4 linked regions of the Homo sapiens genome follow. The protein of the gene in region 2 interacts with the protein of the main gene of each other region in a pairwise test. Each region holds a gene or a part of one and is shown on either strand. Other genes may lie near its edges.

Region 1 (4,159 bases), on a different chromosome or scaffold from region 2:
CTCCCCCTCTGCTGTCTTCTGAGGCTGATTTCCCCAAGACCTGCTCTGGGACCGCTTTGTGCTTTCGCCCTCAGGGCGGTCAGCATTCCAATAGCTGTGCAGCGTATCTGCTCTCTGCGGCACCCACGTTTTGTCTTGAGCGCAGCCTCTCCTCCGAGCTCTGGGCTTGTATATTCACCTGCCTATTTGGCGTCTTCACATGCACGTCTCATCTCAAACTTGGCATACCCCCTCTGCATCTGCATACCCTGTTCTTTTTGTCTTTCTCATCACCCATTTTATTTCTCCATTTCACCCAGCTGTGCAAGCTGAGAACCTCCTACATTCATGCCATCACCAGCTAACGTCTTCTCCACCTTCAGAAGATATCCTGAATCCATCTACAGACTCTCCATCTCCATCCACATGCTGCTGTCTGGGTCTCAGCCACGCTGTCTCACCGGCTTCTACTTCCCGTTGGCTAATATGTGCATTTGTAATGTCAGGGGATATTATCTGCTTCCTTTCGGATACACTTTCTACACAGTAACGTCACCTTTTAAAAACACAAGTTAGATTATAAAGCTCTTTTCTTTTCTTTTTTCTTTTTCTTTTTTTTTTTTGAGACAGAGTCTCACTGTTGGCCAGGCTGGAGTGCAGTGGCGTGATCTCGGCTTACTGCAACCTCCGCCTCTTGGGTTCAAGCAATTCTCCTGCCTCAGCCTCCTGAGTATCTGGGACTACAGGCGCCCGCCACCACGCCCAGCTAATTTTTTTTTTTTTTTTTTTTTTTTTAGTAGAGATGGGGTTTCACTGTGTTAGCCAGGATGGTCTCAATCTCCTGACCTCGTGATCTGCCCGCCTGGGCCTCCGGAAGTGCTGGGATTACAGGCATGAGCCACTGTGCTCAGCCTTTTTTTTCTTTTTGAGATGGAGTCTCGTTCTGTCACCAGGCTGGAGTGCAGTGGCGACATCTTGGCTCACTGCAACCTCCGTCTCCTGGGTTCAAGTGATTCCCCTGCCTCAGCCTCCTGAGTAGCTGGGATTAAAGGCATGAGCCACCGTGCCCAGCTAAGTTTTGTATTTTCAGTAGAGACGGGGTTTCACCATGTTGGTCAGGACGGTCTCGAACTCGACCTCAAGTGATCCGCCTGCCTCAGCCTACCACTGTGCTGGGATTACAGGCATGAGCTACCACGCCAGGCCTAAAATTCTTTTCTTAAAGCCCGGTAATAGTTTCCTATCCCACTTTGGAGAAAATAAAAGCTCCTTGCCATGGCTTGCAAACCCTCTGTGATCTGACCCAACTTGTGTTTTCACCTCTTCCAGCCACTCTGACTTCTGACCCGTTCCTCTCACACACGCTTTGATATTTTCTCAGAGGTGTTCCCACCTCTACATGTCTCTCACCGCACTGCCTGAGGCACCCTCCAGGGTGGGCTGCATGTACCCCAAGCCTGCCTGGCACCTAGCGAAGGATGTGGTCTGTTGTGGGTGCTCATGTGTTTGCAGGATGAGCAAGTCAGCCAGCCCGGGACCCCTCGGAGCCAGTCACAGAGCCTGGAGCAGAAGACTGCTTCCCTGAGTTCTGGTCCTGGATTCTTTTTCCACGCCAGACCATTAGAAGTTTCTGAAATTGACTTCCTAATTTAGAGGTGTAAAAAGTGAAATGTCTGCCTCTCTATATCTCTAAGTCACCTACTTGCCCTTCCAAGGGCCATCGATGTCATCAGTCTCTTGGGTATCCTTCCAGACATAATTTGTGCAGGTGCAAGCCAACACGCATAGAGTGTTGCATCCCCCTTTCCATATAGCATGGAGAGCCCTGTCCTGAATCTTGTTTTTCAGGCTTAATTTATCTTGATGAATATTGTGTATCAACACATGAAGAGCATTACTAGCTTTTGTACCTATATAGGGTTCCACCTTGGGGATATGTCATTCATCTCATCTGCTGTGGGTGAACATTTAGTTTGTGCCTAGAGTCTTGCTGTTACCAATGATGCTGCAGTAAATAACTGTGGACACCGTGTAACTGCACAACACATTGCTTTCCACACCTGTGAGTGTCTGTAGGATACACTTGCAGAAGTAGACTTGCTGGGTCGAAGAGGGTGTGTGTTTCTTACTTCGATAGGTACTGCCAGGCCCTCTAGAGAGCTGTGATAATTTACACCTTCCCCAGCAGTGTAGAAATTGTCTCTTTCCCCACAACCTTGCCTATAGTTCATACATCTTTGAGTTTTGCCAGTCATATAGGCGAAAACTGCATTCTCAGAGCAAGTTTATTTTTAATACTTTTTTTTTTTTTTTTTAAGACAGAGTTTCCCTTTTGTCCCCTAGGCTGGAGTGCAATGGTGCGATCTCGGCTCACTGCAAACTCCCCCTCTCAGGTTCCAGCAATTCTCCTGCCTCAGCCTCCCAAGTAGCTGGGATTACAGGCACCTGCCACCAGGCCTGGCTAATTTTTTGTATTTTTAGTAAAGATGAGGTTTCACCATGTTGGCCAGGCTGGTCTCGAACTCCTGACCTCAGGTGATCCACCCGCCTCGACCTTCCAAAGTGCTGGGATTATAGGTGGGAGCCACAGCGCCCAGCCTCATTACTCTTATTTTTGAGTGAGGCTGAACTTCTTGCCATCTATTTAAGAATGTTTCGGCCAGGTGCGGTGGCTTGCGCCTGTCATCCCAACACTTTGGGAGGCCAGGGTGGGCGGATCACCTGAGATCGGGAGTTCCAGACCAGCCTGACCAACATGCAGAAACCCCGTCTCTACTAAAAATACAAAATTAGCCAGACATGCTGGTTCATACTGATCCCAGCTACTTGGGAGGCTAGGGCAGGAGAATCGCTTGAACCCAGGAGGCAGAGGTTGCGGTGAGCCAAGATCGCGCCATTGCACTCCAGCCTGAGCAACAAGAGTGAAACTCCGTCTCAAAAAAAGTAAATAAAGAAAAATAAAAAAGAATGTTTTGTTTTATTTTCTGTGAACTTTATCTGTTTGTATCCTTTTTCTATCTTTATTAGATTATTAATTTTTTATTACTTTATAGATATGCTTCATGAATTAGCCCTTTATGAACTGAGTTGCAAATATTCTTTTCCCCATTTCTTGTTTAACTTATTGTGATTTTTGCCACACAGAGATGTTAAAATTTTAATGTTTGAAGGTCAATCTTTTATTTTTTATTTATTTATTTTCTGAGACATGTTCTTGTTCTGTTGCCTGGGCCTGAGTGTAGTGGCGAGATTGTGGCTCACTGCAGCTTTGACCTCCCAGGCTCATGCGATCCTCCTTCCTAAGCCTCCCTGGTAGCTGAGACTACCACGCCTAGCTAATTTTTGTATTTTTTGTACAGACAAGGTCTCCCTATGTTGTCTAGGCTGGTCTCAAACTCCTAGGCTCAAGCGTTCCTCCCACCTCAGCCTCCCAAAGTGCTGGGATTACAGATGTGAGCCACTGGGCCCAGCCGACCAATCTTTGGTAGCTTCCAGTTTAGTGTCATAGTTAGAAGTCCACACTCCCAAGTTACAAAAGTTTCCTCATAGCTGATTCTTGTTTGTTTAGGGCTTTGTTTTTTTTCCATTAAGTCCTTGATTTGTTTGGAATTAGGCCTGATGTGGTGTGAGGCATGGACCAAACTTAGTTGGCATTTTTCCAGATGATTATGTAGTTTATTTTAATACCATTTTTTCACTTTCCCTCTTTTTTTTTTTTTTTTTTCTTTGAGTTGGAGTCTTGCTCTGTCACCCAGGCTGGAGTGCAGTGGCGTGATCTTGGCTCACTGCAAGCTCCGCCTCCCAGGTTCATGCCATTCTTCTGCATCAGCCTCCCAAGTAGCTGGGACTACAGGCACCTGCCACCACACCCGGCTAATTTTTTGTATTTTTTAGTAGAGATGGGGTTTCACCGTGTTAGCCAGGATGGTCTCGATCTCCTGACCTTGTGATCCACCCTCCTCGGCCTCCCAAAGTGCTGGGATTACAGATGTGAGCCACCCTGCCCGGTCTACTTTCCCTCTTTATTTGATATGTTACTTTTATGATATGCCAAGTCTTCTTTATATCCATTTTGCATATTTCTTGTTAGGTTTGTTTATCGTTATTTTGCATCTTTCGTTGCTGCTAGAAACGAAGTATTTTCTTCCATGTTATCTTCTCACTGTTCTTTGTAGATATG
Region 2 (4,501 bases):
GGTCAGGAGTTCGAGACCAGCCTGGCCAACACAGTGAAACCTCATCTCTTCTAAAAATACAAAAATAAGCCGGGCATGGTGGCGCACGCCTGTAATCCCAGCTACTCAGGAGTCTGAGGCAGGAGAATTACTTGAATCCGGGAGGTGGAGGTTGCAGTGAGCCACGATGGTGCCACTGCACTCCAGCCTGGGTGGCAGAGCGAGACTCTCGGCAAAAAAAAAAAAGAGAAAAAGAAAAAAAAGAAAAGGTTAATCAAGAGACAGTGCAGTATTTAACATACTGCTGAAGACCGGATATACCTGTATCAGCTAAACAAGCAAAAGCAGCAATTACTTTCAAATAAGTTGTACCTCAGTTTTCGAGTATTATAACTCCACTCCCAAGGTTCCTTGATTGTATTACAAGTTATGTCTAAAACAATACTTTGCTTTTAACAGAAATGGAATTTCATTTCAACCATATATGAAAGCTACACATTTGAAGGCCATTCAATATCATACTTTTATACTTAATTACCTCTGAGAAAATGGAGCAAATTTTGACATTCTTCCACCTTAAAAACATTTTCTCCTACCTACATTCTAACACCCCTTACTCATATAATATTACCAGATATGTTGTTAGTAAAAATCAGTAGTGCTGGCCAGCGTTTTAAAACAAACATCACTAACTACAAAGATACTCTACTTGAAATCAGGTCACAAAAAACCAACGCTGCTTTTCAATTAAAACTCAAAAAGGGCCAGGAGCTGTAGCTCACTCCTGCAATCCCAACACGTTGGGAAGCCAAGGCAGAAGGATCCCTTGGGGCCAGGAGTTTGAGGCCAGCCTGTGCAACATAGCGAGGCCTTGTCTCTACTAAAATTAAAATAAATGTAGCTGGGTGTGGTAGTATATGCCTATAGTCTCAGGTACTCGGAAGCCTGAAGTGGGAGGATCACTTGAGTCGAGGACTTTGAGGCTGCAGTGAGCCATGACTGCACCACTGCACTTGAGCCTAAGTGACAAAGCAAGACCCTGTCTCAATTAAAAAAAAAAAAAAAAAAAAAGCCTAAGAAATAGATGACTATTTTCTTTATACTTTTCTGTATTTTAAAATATTTTGTAACAATTATAAGTCAAGAAAAAATTTTAAGTGTAGCCCTAAACTCCAGCTCCGTTTTGCAAAATAAGGCATAAATTAAAAATTGTGTGCAAAATCGTAATCGATGCTTGGTCTTAAGTTTGACTGTTGTGGTACTTGAAGGATAATGAGTAGAAATTCAATGACTCAATGAAAATGACAAATGCTAAACATACACCCAAAACAAAACAAAAAAGCTAATTAAGGAGTTACAATAAAAATCTTTATTTAGGTTTGGTCAGTACAGGTAAGATATACTGGAGTCACAGAGCAATATGCATTAACAGGATACAACAGTTCATAAAAACTGAGTAACTATGCACACAAATTTCTTAAACAGTCACCTAAAGAGAAAATGCACAGATGTATGGTGGAAAAAACTGTATCTAACACTGAAACTACTACAGGACTCCATCAATGAGTCCAACTTTTAGTGATAAAAAACTACTGTACTGGGCAAACTTGGCAGTCATAAACCCACATCTACTCTAACAAGTCTGAATGGTGCATAAGTACAGTAACAGCATGAGTACGAATGCCCTTACACAGCACAGATTCTAAACAGACAGATTTATACAGACATCATTGTGTTGTATTTTAAGGAAAAATTTCCATTTACAATTTCACATTAACTCATATAAAAATAACTTGACCCTACACAAAATGTCCTTTTAGCAACATTCAAAGTAATTAACTGTTACAATTTCCAAAGCGGCAGAAGTATTGAAGCAAAAAAAAAAAAAAAAAAAAAAAAAGAAAAGAAAAAAAAAACAAAGAAAAAAAACAACAAAAAAAAACCAAAACGTACACCCACAAAAAGGCAAATTGTGACAAAAGTATGCATTAATTTTCTGGACAGTATCCTCTCCCAAATTAAATGACACTGTATAAAAATTTGCTGAAAAAATATTACAAAACTGAACCCTGTACATTTACACTTGAGTCCAAGCCATTCTGAACGTGGCGGGAACCCACAGTTCGATTACCTTTCCCACTCACTGCTTTCTCCTCTTGAGGGTCATGACTGGAGTCTGTGTCATTTGATTGGTGTGTGAGAGAGTTTTCACTGCCCGTGGGAGAGTCTACACTTTCATACCCCGCACTGAGTTGATTTACGTAACCACTACCTCCTCTGCCAGTTCTCTCCTCTGAGCTGTTGGAGGACTTATTACCATTCCCTGGAGAAGAAGGAAAGTCATCTTCGGTTGTGTTGCCCTCCCTGTGAAATCCAGACCCAGACGTCCTCTGGCGGGAGGAGCTACCATTACTTGGTCCGTTTGTCAGACGACTGCAGTCTTTACTTGTGGCCTCTGACTGTTCTACAGGTTCAGAAGCTGTAGTCCTGCTGGTACTTGGGGCAGAGGCCTGAGACTGCTGCTGCTGGTACTGAGCCAACTGCTGGCGTGTCTCCTTCAGCTGCTGCTGCAGAACTAGAATGGTACTCTGCATACCCTCTACTTCTTCATCAAGCTGGATGATGAAGTCATTCAGTTCTGTGCAAAGGAGAGTCAGACCAACTTTAATATCGTTTATAACATTGAAAAATGTTTCTTTAGTGCCTGCCACAAAGCAAGGGAGTCAATAAACGCTCAAGTAAACAAATACAATTCTAAAATCACACTACATTTAAAAATTTTGCTTGGAATCTTAAAATATGACTGAGTTTGTTTTGGGGGAAGTCAGATACTTAAAATAATATACAGTTGGCCCTCCACATGCAACAATGAATTCAAGCAACTGTAGAAGGAAAATATTCAAGGAAGAAAAAACTGGGTCTATACTGAACATGTACAGATTTTTTTTCTTGTCATTATCCCCCAAACAATACAGTAAAATAACTATTTTCCTAGCATTTATATTGTATTAGGTACTGTTAATCTAGAGATGGCTCAAAGGGGAAGATGTACATAGGTTTATATGTAAATATGACATCATTTTATATGAGGGGCTTACTGTGGGAGGTCCTGACACCAATCCACCATGGATACCGAGGGCAACTGTATTAAGCAACCAAGTTAAAATTGTTTTGATCCATCTTGCCATATGCCTGATTACAGCCCCAAAGTTTGACTCACGTTTACCTATGGGCCCACTATGGCCAATCCCCTTATTCCTGATCCAGTGCCTTAGTTCCATAGCAAGTCTGATCCTTAAGGATAGTGTGGTCCTCTATAACACTCCAAAGAGGCCCATGTTCTCAACCAAGGACTGTTACATATAAAAGGACAAAAGTCACAGGAAATAATTCCTGAAGATTTTGAAAAGGTAGGTAGTTCAGAAGAAATTACTTGGCTACTGATCATCTTTGCAATTAACCAGAGACACTAATTTTCAATTTAAAATTTCAAAGAATTTGGATATTTTCCTTATTAATAATGCACCTTACAAAGAAGAGAAACAGAGATACAGCTACACTTGCACTAAAAAGGATGGAGGCTGACAAGTTTTATCTCAGCAAATTTAAAGATTAAATCTCTTATTCACTAATAAAACCTTCACAGATACAATCAACTTTATTACTTTCAGATCGCTGAAAACTGCCCATGTTTCTAAGATTTACACTTAACGAGAAATGCTTATTCTCCCTTTCAAACAATGAATACAAATTTGTCCATCTTGTTAAGTAATACAACACCCTTTTATCTTTTACCAAATCCTACCCCCAACTAAAAACAAAAATGTAAGAAATTTTGAACAATAAAGAATTAGGAGGGTGGGGATAAACAAACTAAAATTATATGGCTTTGTTTGCGGACTCAACTAAAAATGCTTCACTCACAATAATATACAATCATAGGGCAGAGGTTAACAATGTACAGAATCTAACCTATAATATTCATGACTGGCAGTTTTAAAAAGCCAATGCAAAGTTGAGACAACGTTCCAAAAAGAAACAAACCCCTTACCATCCTGACTGCTTTTAAGCTCCTCACTGTATTTCTTCTGTAAAGCCAACTCTGCTTCAAGTTGTGCAATACGTCCCTGGGACAGCTGCCTTCCAAGCTCTTGATTCTCCTGGATAAGCATTCGACACTTCGCCATTAACTTTTTCCCTGTTTGGCTGCAAAGGAAAGAGCCATCCATCACAAAATGAAGACAAAACTCTCTGTCTTTGCTTACAATTATTACAGTGATAGATGTAACACATACAAACATAACTATATCACAGCAGATGCTTCCCCATAATTACCATCTTCTTTTCTGGGACACATCCATCTTCTGCATTTCAGTATTTTGCCAACACAGCAGTAAAAATAAACCCTAAACAAAAAGTGCCCAAACAGCTACACCTTGTTTCTATTACATCAATAATCAATTCTGAAATCCATCTATTTTCATCTCAAATTATCATTTGAAATGGAAACAGAGCCAGTTAA
Region 3 (4,159 bases), on a different chromosome or scaffold from region 2:
TGCCACCACACCTGGCTAATTTTGGTTGTTTTCTTTGTTTTGTTTTTTTGGTAGAGACAGGGTCTCACTGTATCGCCCAGGTTAATCTCAAACTCCTGGTCTCAAGTGATCCTCCTACCTTGGCCTCCCAAGATGCTGGGATTGTAGGCATGAGCCACTGTGCCCAGCCTGCTTTGTCCTTTTTAATTAAAAATCATGTATTGGCCGGGCACAGTGGCTCATGCTTGTAATCCCAGGACTTTGGGAAGCCGAGGCAGGCGGATCACTTGAGGTCAGGAGTTCGAGACCAGCCTGGCCAACATGGTGAAGCCCCGTCTCTACTAAAAATACAAAAATTAGCCGGGTGTGGTGGCAGGCACCTGTAATCCCAGCTACTCAGGAGGCTGAGGCAGGAGAATCGCTTGAACCCGGGAGGTGGAGGTTGCAGTGAGCCAAGATCGCACCACTGCACTCCAGCCTGAGCAACAGAGCAAGACTCTGTCTCAATCAATCAATCAATATCATGAGGAAAAAGTCTTCTTTAAAATTTGAAAATTAATTTTTATTTCAGTAGCTTTTGAGGTACCAGTATTTTTTTGTTATAGGGATGAATTATGTAGTGGTGAATTCTGAGATCTTAGTAAACCAGTTATTCCAGTAGTGTACATTGTAAGTAATGTATAGTGTTTTATAGTGTACATTGTAACTAATGTATAGTGTTTTATAGTGTACATTGTAACTAATGTATAGTGTTTTATAGTGTACATTGTAACTAATGTATAGTGTTTTATAGTGTACATTGTAACTAATGTATAGTGTTTTATAGTGTACGTTGTAACTAATGTATAGTGTTTTATAGTGTACATTGTAACTAATGTATAGTGTTTTATCCCTAGCACCACTGCCATCCTCCCGCCTTGAGTCTCTAAAGTTCCATTATATCACTCTGTATGCCTGTGCATTCCCATCATTTAGCTCCCACTTACGAGTGAGAACATAGTTTGTGGTTTTCCACTCCTGTGTTACTTAGAATAATGGCCTTCATCTCCATCCAAGTTGCTGCAAAAGACATTCATTCTTTCCTTTTACTGGCTGAGTAGTATTCCATAGTTTATAGATACATTTTCTTTATCTGCTCATTAGTCAATGGCCACTTAGGCTGGTTCCACATCTTTGCAATTGTGAATTGTGCTGCTATAAACATACGTGTGCAAGTATCTTTTTCATATAATGACTTATTTTCCTTTAGGTAGATGCCCAGACTGCTGGATTGAATGCAGATCTACTTCGAAAAAGTCTCAAGTGCCTAACTATCCCCTGTTCCCTGTGTTCTGATTTCTTTTTTTTTTTTTTTTTTTTTTTTGAGATGGAGTCTTGCTCTGTTGGCCAAGCTGGAGTGCAGTGGTGCAATCTCGGCTCACTGTAACCTCCACCTCCCGGGTTCAAGTCATTCTTCTGCCTCAGCCTCCTGAGTAGCTGGGACTACAGGCATGTGCCACCACCACACCCGGCTAATTTTTGTATTTTTAGTAGAGATGGGGTTTTGCCTTTTTGGCCAGGCTTATCTTGAACTCGTAACCTCAGATGATCCACCTGCCTTGGCCTCCCAAAGTTCTGGGATTATAGACATGAGCCACTGCGCCCAGCCTGTGTTCTGATTTCTTTACCTGTTATATAAGCTTACCATTCCTTCCAGTAGCCTTATAACATAGAGGGACAGGGGCTTATTTCCAGGTAGAGTAGGGAATTTGGGGTCCACGGAGTTCAGGTTCTTGCCAGAAGTGACGTTGCTGCTTAGTGTTGAAACTGAGCCCACCAGGACCAGGTGCAGGTCATTTCCTATTACCTGTCCCTGCCCTCCTGCCCCGCCCAAAAGAAACTTTATGATGGTGAGAAAGTGATACATATTCAGTGGGAACTGTGCTCCCATACCCCTACAACCATTCTGTTTTTCACTGTCAAAACAGTACTCAATAAATTACATGAGATTCGGCTGGGCGTGGTGGCTCACGCCTGTAATCCCAGCACTTTGGGAGGCTGAGGCGGGAAGATCACTTTAGGTCAGGAGATCGAGACCATCCTGGCTAATACGGTGAAACCCCATCTCTACTAAAAATACAAAAAAAAAAAAAAATTATCTGGTGCATAGTGACGCACGCCTGTAATCCTAGCTACTCGGGAGGCTGAGGCGGGAGAATTCTTGAACCTGGGAGATGGAACTTGCAGTGAGCTGAGATCACAGCACTGCACTCCAGCCTGGTCAACACAGTGAGACTCTGTCTCAAAAAAAAAAAAATTACATGGGATTCAACATTTTCTTATATAATAATGAAAATAGGCTTTGTGCTAGATGATTTTGCCCAGCCGTAGGCTAATAGAAGTGTTCTGAGCACATTTAAGGTAGGCTAGGCTAAGTGATGATGTTCAGTAGATTAGGTGCATTAAATGCTTTTTCTTTTCTTTTTTTTTTTTTGAGATGGAGTCTCGCTCTGTCACCCAGGCTGGAGTGCAGTGGCTCGATCTGGGCTTACTGATCACCTCCCGGGTTCACGCCATTCTGCCTCAGCCTCCCGAGTAGCTGGGACTACAGGCACCCGCCACCACGCCCGGCTAATTTTTTGTATTTTTAGTAGAGATGGGGTTTCACCGTATTAGCCAGGATGGTCTCGATCTCCTGACCTCATGATCGGCCTGCCTCAGAATCCCAAAGTGCTGAGATTACAGGTGTGAGCCACCACGCCCGGCCAAATGCTTTTTCAACTTACGATATTTTCTTTTTTTTTTTTTTTTTGAGACAGAGTCTTGCCCTGTTGGCCAGGCTGGTCTCGGCTCCCTGCAACCTCCGTCTCCTGGGCTCAAGCAATTCTCCTGCCTCAGCCTCTCAAGTTGCTGGGATTACAGGCATGTGCCACCATGCCCAGCTAATTTTTGTATTTTTAAGTAGAGACGGGGTTTCAACATGTTGGCCAAGCTGGTCTCGATCTCCTGACCTCTGGCAGTCCTCCCACCTCAGCCTCCCAAAGTGCTGGGATTACAGGCGCAAGCCACTGTGCCCGGTCAACTTATGATATTTTCAACTTACAGTGGGTTTGTCAGGACATAGTCCCATCCTAAATTGAGGAACATCTGTATACTAGACAGGGACTTCTCTGAGGTCAGGGACCCTGTTTTCATTCTGTATCCCCAGTTCCTGACAAAATCCTAGCATGTATAACATCGCCTACAACAAGTTTGTTCCAGGAAAGAGTGTTTCATAATAATGACACTTGCTACTAGGCTTTTTAGTGGCTGGCAGAGTGCTCTCACACCACTGTTAGTTAATACTCGTATTCACCCAGTCAAATGGATGTTCTCCCCATCCTAGAGGTGTGCACCCAACAATTAGAGCAATCACAAGAGCACACACTTCCTAATGAGAAAGTTCCAGAAGGATTATCCTGAATACCTTGAAAGGCTCAGATTGCAAACTTGGCTGGCAGGCATTTCCTTCACCTGCTGGGCTGTTGACCACTGAATCTCCTGATTTTAGGCTCCAAGATTATGGCCCATGCCCCCCAGGCCGCACCTCGTTCCTTACCAGGTTCTTCCTACCCCCTCCCCCAGGAGATTGCTGCGATGATTGACACTGAGTTTGCCAAGCAGACCTCCCTGGACGCAGTGGCCCAGGCCGTCGTGGACCGGGTGAAGCGCATCCACAGCGACACCTTCGCCAGTGGTGGGGAGCGTGCCAGGTTCTGCCCCCGGCACGAGGACATGACCCTGCTAGTGAGGAACTTTGGCTACCCGCTGGGCGAAATGAGCCAGCCCACACCGAGCCCAGCCCCAGGTACGTGTGCTGTGCAGACAGGCAGTGCCTGGGGATGCCATCTGGGGGCCAGAGGTGGGTGCAGAGCCCCCGAGGCTGCTTGAAACGGAGATGGAGTCAGGAGGCCTGGCTCTGAGTGGCTCTAATTCAGGTTCTCTGATTTTTAGCCTCTCTGAGCTGAGTGTTGATTTTTGCTCTTTTGTCTGTAAAATGAGGTTAATACCACCTGCCCCGGCAACCTCCCAGAACCTGAGTGCCCCAGCAAGCAATTCACAGAGCCCTGAAGCCACATAATAGAGATGATGGCCACCACTGATTGAGTGCCTCCCTTGTGCCAGGCACACAGCCTGCCTTATTCCCTTCAGTCCTCATGGG
Region 4 (4,159 bases), on a different chromosome or scaffold from region 2:
CCGTGTCAGCCTCAAGCTGTCGTTCCCTTCCCACATCCTGCTCTGGCCGTGTTCTCTCTCTGCAGCCTCATCCAGGGCTGGGGGAGGGGACAGGCAGAGAAGGGGAAGGGGGCAGTATGGCTGTGAGCTTGGGATGGGGTCGGCAGGTTCCCCATCTCTCGGGCTCCTGGCCCAGGCTGTGTCTTGTTCCCAGCGCTGAGGGCAGGAGCAGGACCTGCCTGTCATTGGTGGTGGGAGTAAGAGGTCGGAGCAGGGAGCGGAGCAAGGGGCCTGCCCGTCTGTGCTCCTGCCTGGTTCCCATCTCGTGTAAACCGAGCCCTGATGACTTCCACGAAGAGGGCCCCGCCATACCCCGTGTCCCCATCCCCAGCGGTGTTCAGCTCAGGGTTTCCAGCCCTTTCTTCTGGGCCCTCTGGGCCCCATCGTGTGTGGGATGGGCATCCATTGAACTGGGTTTTGTAGCCTCATGCTCAGGGAGTGGTGTAGGGCTCAGCCTGTCTGCTGCCCACTGACTCTGCCCTGGCCTGCAGGTGCCCTGCCAGTCAGCGTCGTCAGCCTCTGCCCTGGGCGGTGTCAAAGTGGAGAGGCAGGTCTTTGGGGAGGCCACCAAGCAGCCAGGCATCACCTTCATCGCAGCCAAGTTCGATGGCATCCTGGGCATGGCCTACCCCCGCATCTCCGTCAACAACGTGCTGCCCGTCTTCGACAACCTGATGCAGCAGAAGCTGGTGGACCAGAACATCTTCTCCTTCTACCTGAGCAGGTGGGCGTGTGGGTTCCCTCTCGCTCCGCGTTGCTGGGAGGCAGGGCGGGGCTGGACGGGGAGCCTTCTAGGCACCCCCTCTCAGTGCTGCCCCCTCCCTGCTGCTGTGCCAGAGCTCCTGACCTCTGACCTCAGGGCATCCGGGAGGCGGGGGTTGGCCGCCCTTCTGCAGAGGAGTAAGCGGCAGCACAGAGAAAGCTGTTTGGCCGGGGTCTCCCAGTGGGAGGGGCTCGGGCCAGGCTGTGGGTCCTGGGACCTTGGCAGCTGGGCCTCCCTCCTATGAGAATGGACCCAGGTCAGGGGTCGTGGCAGTTCCTCTTGGTTCAGTCGGCCCGTCGGTCCCCAGACCTGGTGATGGGCACATGTGGTCCTGGTCCCGGGGTTGCTGATGGTGGAGAGGGTCATGGTGCCCAGGGGACCGGGGATCCCCGGGGAGGTGACCTTGGGTGCGTATGGGTCCCCGGCACCACGCTGCGAGCAGCTCTGTGGGCGTCCCCAGCAGGTGCCGGCTGCCCTCGAGGAGGAACATAGGGGGCCCTTCCTTCTGGGAAAAGGGTTCTCCCCCAGGGCCCCCACCTGCAGCCGCTGCTCCAGCTTGGGTGACCCATGGTCAGGTGACCTTGGGAAGGGGACGTCGGACTCAGTTAGTTTCCTCTTCTCGGGGCAGACCTGAGTGGAGGGTTCCACATAAGAGGGGTGACTGGGGGTTGGGGGCTTTTGTTTTGGGGGTGGGCAGCGTGTCAGCCGGCGGCCTCCTGCCCTGAGCTGCGCCTGGTCACTGCCCCACACTCTCCAGGGCTGACAGGGGCAGGTTTACCTCACGTGGCTCACTTGGCACTTGGAGTCTCTGGGCCTGACCCCTAACCTTGGATCGCTTCCGGCAGAATTCCGGCTGTAGGGCTGGCTGGGCCTCTTTGCTCTGCCCCTTGCCTGGGCAGTGAATACTCCTTAGCAACACCCAGGGCTAAGCTGCTCACTAGAGGCCAGGACACAGGTGAACCGGCTGGGCCATTTCCCCAGGAGCCTTGGGGCACAGGGGAGGCAGCCAGGTGAAAAGGGGTCCCCTGAGGGCAAGAGGGCATGCAGGCATGAGTGCCCACATGGGGAGGGGGCACACAGCCTGAGTACCCAGGTCAGGGAGGGGGACACAGGCATGAATGCCCATGTGGGGGAGGGGCACACAGCATGAGTGCCCATGTGGGGGAGGGGCACACGGTATGAGTACCCAGGTCGGGGGAGGCATACACAGGCATGAGTGCCAGGTGGAAGGAGGGGCACACAGAGTGAGTGCCCAGGTGGGGGAGGTGCACATGGTTGTGAGTGCCCAGGTGTAGTCTCAAGGCAGCAGCTTGGGCAGGAAGTGGAGCCAGGCAGGAGGGAGGGTCTGAGGGCTTCTGAAAGCATGTTTGGTGAGGAGAGGAGGGGTGGGAGGCGCTGATCAGGTTTCTACACTTGGGATTGCAGAGGTGTTGACAAGAGGCAAAGGCGGAGGAGGCTGGAGGAGGGCGGAGGCCCCAATCGGTGTTGGGAGGACTGGGTCAGGCCTGGCACTGCCTCGAGTGACAGGCAGTGGGATGGTGGCCAGCTTAGCTGCAGACGCTCTGGCGGGATGGCAGAACCGCCCCAGACACAGAGAGCTTCTCTACCAGGACCGGCAGGATTTGCTGCGTTGAAAGCTGTACTTGAGCAATGTTTAGAAACAAACCCGGGCGACATGGGTTGCAGGTCCTAGGAAGTGCAGTGCGCTCCTGCCCAGGAGCACCTTGGCTGGCCATCAGTGGTCTGGATGAGGGGGAGATGAGCGGACGTGGCTCGGGGATGCAGGTGGAGGGTGTTCCCAGGAGCAGCCAGTGCAGAGGCCCTGCGGCCAGAACCAGCCATCCCAACTTCCCAGATTGTGCCATCACTCCCTCCTGGAAGCCTTCTTTGGTTTTTTCTTCCAGACAGACAGACAGGGTCCTCCCCAGTGGAGCTCCTGGCACTCACTTCCTTGTCTGCCGCTAGCCTTGACCCTGATGTCTGGCTGAACCTTGGCTCCTGAGCAGACCAGGAGAACCTGAGGGTTGAGGAAAACCTCTTCTGGGCCAGGCTGGGCCCACGCAGAGCAGCCCTACCCCGGGAAGAAGGGAGTCTGTCCCTCCTCCTGCCTTCTGGGCCTTTCCATCCCTGCAGTTTCAGAAAGGCCCCTCCTTCAGGAAGCTCTCCCTGATTGCCACATTCACCCTCTTACTCCTGACCTGGCACTCTTGTGCTTGGGGGGTGGCGTGGCAGCTGACTCCTCCCTTTTCCTCCTAGGGACCCAGATGCGCAGCCTGGGGGTGAGCTGATGCTGGGTGGCACAGACTCCAAGTATTACAAGGGTTCTCTGTCCTACCTGAATGTCACCCGCAAGGCCTACTGGCAGGTCCACCTGGACCAGTGAGTAGTGGCTGCAGTCGGCTCCCCTGGGTTCTGTGGGCGGGGGCGGTGTGCGGAGACCCTGGAGGACCCCGGTTCTGCAGGTGGGGGTTGCATGTGGGGAGTAGTGGGAGCTGGGCAAGAAAGAGATGGGGTCAGACCAGCCCTCCATGCCCCTCCTTGCCCCTCCATGCTCCCCATCACCTCCATCCCCTCTATTCCCTCTATCCCTCCATCCCTCCATTTCCTCCATGCCTCTGTGACTCTCCATGACCCACCATCCCTTCTGTCCATCCCTCCATGCCCTCCATCCCCTCCATCCCCTCATCCCTCTGTGACTCTTCATGACCCTCCATCTCCTCCATCCCTCCATCCCCTCCATCCCTCCATCCCTCCATCCCCTCCATCCCTCCATCCCTCCATCCCCACATCCCTCTGTGACTCTCCATGACCCTCCATCCCCTCCATCTGTCTATCCCTCCATCCCTCCATCCCTCCATGCCCCTCCATCCCTTCATCCCCTCCATCCCCTCCATCCCTCTATGCCCCTCCATCCCCTCCATCCCTCCATGCCCCTCACCACCACCTGAGGGTCTCCCACCCCCTCTACCACTCTGTGTCTCCTCTCCCACCCTCTTCCCTGGAGGGCTTACAGCCGGCTGTGCTTCCAGGAGCCCTGAGGGGAGGAGAGTGCAGCCCAGCCAGGGGAGGGGCTCCCAGGGAGGGGCACTGGGCCCCCAGGGCACACTCCAGTCCCGGCAGGGGCTTCACGCCCTGACTCCCCGCAGGGTGGAGGTGGCCAGCGGGCTGACCCTGTGCAAGGAGGGCTGTGAGGCCATTGTGGACACAGGCACTTCCCTCATGGTGGGCCCGGTGGATGAGGTGCGCGAGCTGCAGAAGGCCATCGGGGCCGTGCCGCTGATTCAGGGCGAGGTGAGCGCCGGGGGCTGGGGCTGGGGCTGGGGCTGGCAGGGGGAGCCCCAAGGCCACCACTACCAC

What was found.
Region 1: the proteins of WTAP (region 2) and GTSE1 interact in a two-hybrid assay, tested with the Homo sapiens proteins (one large-scale study listed by BioGRID).
Region 3: the proteins of WTAP (region 2) and TAB1 interact in a two-hybrid assay, tested with the Homo sapiens proteins (one large-scale study listed by BioGRID and IntAct).
Region 4: the proteins of WTAP (region 2) and CTSD interact in binary tests that used the Homo sapiens proteins (3 or more experiments, as listed by UniProt).

Annotation. Positions count from the first base shown.
Region 1 is NC_000022.11:46,299,211-46,303,369, forward strand, and holds part of GTSE1 (G2 and S phase-expressed protein 1), read left to right. Parts: intron 1-4,159. UniProt on the Homo sapiens protein: May be involved in p53-induced cell cycle arrest in G2/M phase by interfering with microtubule rearrangements that are required to enter mitosis. Overexpression delays G2/M phase progression.
Region 2 is NC_000006.12:159,753,144-159,757,644, reverse strand, and holds the end of WTAP (pre-mRNA-splicing regulator WTAP), read right to left. Parts: intron 4,186-4,501; coding exon 4,031-4,185; intron 2,618-4,030; coding exon 2,034-2,617; 3' UTR 1,326-2,033; downstream 1-1,325. UniProt on the Homo sapiens protein: Associated component of the WMM complex, a complex that mediates N6-methyladenosine (m6A) methylation of RNAs, a modification that plays a role in the efficiency of mRNA splicing and RNA processing.
Region 3 is NC_000022.11:39,423,121-39,427,279, forward strand, and holds part of TAB1 (TGF-beta-activated kinase 1 and MAP3K7-binding protein 1), read left to right. Parts: intron 1-3,582; coding exon 3,583-3,805; intron 3,806-4,159. UniProt on the Homo sapiens protein: Key adapter protein that plays an essential role in JNK and NF-kappa-B activation and proinflammatory cytokines production in response to stimulation with TLRs and cytokines.
Region 4 is NC_000011.10:1,753,928-1,758,086, reverse strand, and holds part of CTSD (cathepsin D preproprotein), read left to right. Parts: intron 1-530; coding exon 531-763; intron 764-3,058; coding exon 3,059-3,181; intron 3,182-3,948; coding exon 3,949-4,093; intron 4,094-4,159. UniProt on the Homo sapiens protein: Acid protease active in intracellular protein breakdown. Plays a role in APP processing following cleavage and activation by ADAM30 which leads to APP degradation.